Regions from separate parts of the Homo sapiens genome. Here region 2 is linked to region 1. Evidence: fine-mapped QTL for protein levels in blood plasma. Region 1 holds a variant in brackets. A gene starts in the other region. All regions are shown on their reverse strands.

Region 1 (2,916 bases):
CAAGCATAAAGTGCAATTGTGTGTGTGTGTGTGTATGATGACAATGAAAGGGAAACCTTGAAAATAAATTAACAAATATTTACAAAACCTTTATGAATAAATTATTGAACTCTGTTAAAAGGCATTAAAAAGGCATGAATAAATATTAATATCACATTAATTAATGGGAAAACTAAATTCAAAAATATGTCAATTCTCTACAAAGTAATAAAAAACAATGCAAGATTAGTGAAATTCTCAACAAGATTTACATAGATTTCAGCAAGATCAAAAGGCCTAGTATAGACTAGACACTTTTGAAGAAGGACAAGATGGGAGAATTGCCATCTTGTCCTTTTGGATGTCCAATTGACATCCATTCAGAGTATGTAGTAGCCTTTCTCTATCAATTTCTGAAGAAGGAAAAAGTACCCCTAGGATGAAAGCGGGGAGCCCTGAAAGCACATAGTTTACCCAGCAGGCAGTCTTTCTATGAATTAGAAAAAAGTGCCTTTTAGGTAGGCACAGCCTTATATCTGGGTGTATCAAGCAGGATTTGGATTTCAGTCTCTACCCTGGTGTTCTTATGGAGGACACAACTTATACAGTATAGGAAGCATTATACTTTTTTGAAGCTATAGAAATTAATTGGCATGTTATTGACACAGCTATACAAAGTGACCAATGAGAGTATAGAAAACCCAGAAACACATCTTCACATATATGGAAATGATATATGAGAGATGTTGCATTATGTATCAGTGGAAAAAAAAAGGGCAATTTGATAAATGAATCTGAGACCACTGTTTGTGGAAAAAGCATCAAATGATTATGCCTACCTCACACCATATTCAAAAATAAATTCCACATGGATTGAACATTTTTGTATAAAAAATGAAAACAGGCCAGGTGCAGTGGCTCATGACTGTAATCCCAGCACTTTGGGAGGCCCAGGTGGGATGATCACTTGAGCTCAGGAGTTCGAGACCAGCCTGGCCAACATGGTGAAACCCCGTCTCCACTAAAAATACAAAAATTAGCCAGGTGTGGTGGCACGTGCATGTAATCCGAGCTACTGGGGAGACCGAGCCAGGAGAATTGCTTGAACCCAGGAGGCAGAGATTGCAGTGAGCCAAGATCGCACCATTGCACTCCAGCCTGAGTGAAGAAGTGAGACTGTCTCAAAAAAAAAAAAAAATTTGAAAAAAATATAGAAAACTATCTGACATTAAGAGGGAAAGAAACAAAACAAAAATTACAGTTAAGGCCAGGTATGGTGGCTCACACCTGTAATCCAAGCACTTTGGGAAGCCGAGGTGGGAGGCTTACTTGAGGCCAAGAGTTAAGACGATCCTGGGAAACATAGAGAGACCTTGTCTCTACAAAATATTTAAAAATTAGCCAGGTATGGTAGTGCATGCCAGTAGTCCTAACTTCTCAGGAAGCTTGAGGCAAGGGGATCACTTGATTCCAGGAGTTATAGGTTACACTGAGCTACAATTGTGACACTGCACTCCAGCTTGAGGGACAGAGCAAGGCCCTGTCTCTAAACTAAAAAAAAATAAAATAAAATCACAGTTCATATAGGAAAAAATTATTAAATTTACAGACATTAAAATCTAACACTATACAAAAGACTCCATCAACAAAGTTAAAAGATGACCATAGGCTGGAAGATTTTGGGAAAGCGT[G/A]TAACAATTAAAAATTAATAAGAAGAATATATAAAAGGTACTATCACAAATTATAAATGAAAAGATAAGTATCCTAGTTTTTATATATATAAGTTTAAAAAATATGGCCAGGCACGGTGGCTCATGCCTTAATACCAGCACTTTAGGAGGCCAAGGTGGGTGGATCACTTGAGGCCAGGAGTTTGAGACCAGCCTGACCAACATGGTGAAACCCTGTCTTACTAAAAATATAAAAATTAGCCAGTTGTGGTGGTGCATGCCTGTAATCACAGCTACTTGGGAGGTTGAGGCAGGAGAATTGCTTGAACCCAGGAGGTACAGGTTGCAGTGAGCCAAGATGGCACCACTGCACTCCAACCTGGGCCACAGGGCGAGAATATGTCTAAAAATATATATATTATATATATATGTGTACATATATGTACATATATATGTACATTATATATATGTACATTATATATATGTACATTATATATATGGCAATATGTAGAAGAGGAAAGGCCAGTAAACTTCATGAACCTATCCAAAGATGCTCAATTACACAAGTAATCAAGGAAATAAAAATTAAAGCCATAATGAGATACCATTTCACAACCATCTCATTAACCACAAACTTAAAGTTGGATAATACCAGTAACTACTGGCTGGGATGTGGAACAACTAGAATACTTTTTGTAGTACTGGTAAGAGTGTAAATCAGAGCAAGCACCTTGGAGAGCACATGGCAAAATCTAGGAAAGCTGATGTGTCTATCCTATGACCTGACATTTTCACTCTAAGGCTGTTTCTTAAAGAAATTCTCAAATGTACATAAGGACATTTATGTAAGAATCTTCAGTGTATCATTTTTTGCTTATAATGAAACTGTAGACCATATGAATATCTATCAACACTTAAAGTGAATATATTCATATAATGAACTTTTATAAATCTGTGAAAACTATTAAACTAGAGCTCCATATATTAGTGGCTAAAGAGCAAAAAATTGTAATACTGGACTTTTTACAAGTTGCAGAGGATACTTATAGCATGATATCAGTGCTCCAATGCTATAAAATATGCAAGGTTTCATATACTTTAGGGATATATATGTATGTATAAAAGTATAAAAATTATACTTGGGAATAATATTTACCAAATTCTAGCTAGTGGTTATCTCTGGGGAGAAGAAAGTAGAAATGCATCCAGGAAGGATATTTTACAGGCTACAAGTGTATCTGTAACTTTCTTCTTCTTTAAGCTTGTC
Region 2 (2,916 bases), not on the chromosome of region 1:
TTTACCCAAGGACTGTGGAAGAGGCCAAGGATGTGCCTGGAGAAAAACAGGGCACGTGGAGGTACTGGATGGACTCACCAAAATGAAAAGCAGCCTGTCCAGAGCTGTAGGAGCTGAAACAGTTTATGCGATGACAATTTAGGTTATGAGAACGGTATGAAACTACCTTGTGTGTGAGAAGCTTAAGGCAACAACTAGGAAACCGGGAAACGGTTGATCCAGGTTTTGTACCAATCGCAAAAAATCCAGGTTTCGTGCCCAGGCAAAACCTCACTAATGATAAGGTGGGATTCCCAAGTAGGGACAAAGAGATCCCCAAGAGTTAGGAGGCCTTCACACATCTTCCTGACTAACAAACACCAAAAGCTGAGATAAGTTTTCCAATCTCTCCTATTTATTTATTTATTTATTTATTTATTTATTTATTTATTTTTTGAGATGGAGTCTTGCTCTGTGGCCCAGGCTGGAGTTCAACGGCGCGATATCGGCTCACAGCAACCTCTGCCTCCCGGGTTCAAGCCATTCTTCCTCAGCCTCTTGAATAGCTGGAACTACAGGCGTGCGCCGCCTCGCCCGTCTAATTTTGTATTTTCAGTAGAGACGGGGTTTCACCATGTTGGCCAGGCTGGTCTCGAACTACTGACCTCAGGTGATCCGCCCACCTCAGCCTCCCAAAGTGCTGGGATTACAGGAGTGAGCCACCGCGCCGCCCCAACCTCTCCTTAAATGAAACCTTTCTGAAATGCTTTCCCAGGAAAAACTGGGAAGGAGAGCACGCACTGCTCCCTCCTTCATTCACTTGGGCCTGTGCTGCCGACACCCCAAACTGCTCCCCTAAATCAGGGACGGGGTCATATGGCCGCACGCGGGAAGCCAGCGCCCTGCAGCCAGCTTCCAGGGCTCCAGGCGTGGCAGGGCCGGGGACATGACGCCTGCGCCACACACTGGCTGTAGCGGTCAGAGGATGTTTGCGGTGACGCCAGCAGGAGTACCGCTGTCTGGCGTGCGGGGACTGAGCTTCCCTGTCTGGCCGGGCCAGGCCCTGAGTCGGCGCGGCGCGGCCTGGCTGCGGTACCTGTGTCCACCCGGCTCGGAGGCTGGCCTGCCCGCTCAACCAGTCACGCGCCTCCGCGGGGTCCTCAACTGCCCTCCCCGGCTTCCCCACCTCAAGGCCAGCAGAGTTCGGGGTAGACGCTCTCGTTGCCAGGGCTGGTGCACACCTACTCGACCGCGTCCTCTCTTCCAGTCCCTGTCCGGCCACAGCTGGGCCTGGCCGGCGGCGCTTTCCTGCTGCGGTCGTAGCTGCGCAGGCGCACTCCACGGATGCCGCTCAAGGTTGCGGAGGTCGCGGTTCTGGCCCAGCTTCGCCTGACTCTGCTTCTAAAACCTCGGGTCTGGGTTCGGCCGGCACCGCCCCGCCGCCTGGCTGCGCTGCGATTGGCTGTGCCGGCAGCTGGGCGGGGACTCTGGGTGCTCTGATCCCTGGCGCGGTTCGTGGCTTGTTTACTGACTGTCCCAGAGCTGGGCGTGCCTGCCTCAGTGGACCTGGAGGAAGCAGAGCTGGTGCCCCGGGGCGGCGCAGAGTAGGGTCGGGCGTCTCCCTGGAGCGCTCGAGTCAACTAAGTACACGACTTACTGCACTGGGCGAGTGGCTCCTGAAAAGACGTTTACCGCAAGCCCTGTGTGGACTGTTTCAGCCTAACCTTGCTATTCCTTAGTCCTGGAATTTTTGGTCCGCAGAGCCGAGAGTCAAGTGTACTCTAGTCCAGTGGCTCCTGTTTAGTCCACAGCAAACGTGGGGCCGGGTGGACGAACGCAGAGCCCGCGGGCAGAAGCCTTATCTCCCACTTAAGGGTGGGTGCAGCTGGGCTTTAGAAGAATCTGGTAAGGAAAGGCATCCCCAAAACACGAGATGCTATCGTCAAGACCAGACCCTAGGAGGGAGGAGACTGGCTGCGTCTCCAGAGAGCGCGGGCGTTTTGTCAAGCATCCTTTCCAGACTCCTCCATTCAGGGATTCTTCCTTCTCCCACGTCTTACCCAAAACCAACAGAAATGAGTTATTTACAGAAACATTTGGTTGACAGGAGAAAAGCAGTTGAGAACATTAGAAGCTGCTTTTATTCGCCCACTCTCTAGGCTATGGATTATATCTTCCTTGGTAACCAAGTCGTTCTCTTGAGATTTAAGAAATTTAATGACATTTAATGTCAGGATTTAAGATACAGAGAATGGAGAAATGTTGTAGATAGAGGAAAAATATGTATCTTAATCTGTATAATGTAGATATTAATTTATGTAATTAAGGATTTAAGGAACAAAACCCACAAACATTCTAAACTTTTGTCATTTCATTTTTTATTACATAAAAACATTCATTGTAGAAAATACCTTTCGGGGAAAAAAATAATTACCTCTGCCTTTACCCCATAACCTTTTCGTATGCATATTTTGACTTTGTTAAAAATGAACAAAGTCCATTGATTTCTATTGAAGATTAAACTGATAACTCTTTTAGAAGCACAATCACCTATAGTTTTTTAAGTGGTAAAATATACCTCACATAGCAAGTACCATTTTAACCAACTTTGAGTTCAGTAGCATTAAGTACCTTCACATTGTGTAACCATTACTACTGTTTATTCCCAGAGCTTGTTTATCTTCCTAAACTGAAACTGTATCCATTGAATAATAGTTCCCCATTCCCCCTCTCCTAGCTCAGGTATCTACCATTATATTTCCTGTCTGCAGGAATTTGTTTACTATTTTGGAGATTATTCCTCTTTTTTTTTTTTTGAGACGGAGTCTGGCTCTGTTGTTCAGGCTGGAGTGCAGTGGCGCAATCGCAGCTCACTGCAATGTCTGCCTCCTGGGTTCAAGTGATTCCTCTGCCTCAGCCTCCAGAGGAGCTGGGACT

Which allele goes with the higher level. Positions count from the first base shown, and alleles are read on the strand shown. Strength reflects both the effect of a copy and how common the allele is.
In carriers of allele G in region 1, the plasma level of the protein whose gene starts at base 1,355 in region 2 tends to be lower than with A alone (weak association).

Evidence for each region. PIP is the chance, under the fine-mapping model, that this variant and not a neighbour inherited with it causes the effect. Protein levels are from antibody-based Olink assays in UK Biobank. Linkage for the fine-mapping came from a reference panel and not from the study's own genotypes, which makes the PIPs less certain.
Region 2: CTSL starts here. The variant in region 1 is fine-mapped to the plasma level of the CTSL protein (UK Biobank, PIP above 0.99).

What each region holds. Positions count from the first base shown.
Region 1 is chr12:40,219,387-40,222,302 of GRCh38, reverse strand. The region is part of intron 1 of LRRK2-DT (LRRK2 divergent transcript); the gene reads left to right. Among named protein-coding and RNA genes, the nearest start is that of LRRK2-DT, 3.0 kb to the left of the region's middle. The variant G/A (reference allele first, on the strand shown) is at 1,671.
Region 2 is chr9:87,724,558-87,727,473 of GRCh38, reverse strand. CTSL (cathepsin L) reads right to left here and starts at 1,355. Exons shown (of 8, transcript NM_001912.5): 1 at 1,076-1,355. RefSeq lists promoters at 38-458, 38-1,077, 1,282-1,492, 1,331-1,512, 1-1,512 and 7 more, cis regulatory regions at 459-692, 693-838, 1,414-1,415, 1,438-1,441, 1,452-1,455 and 12 more and an enhancer at 1,043-1,564.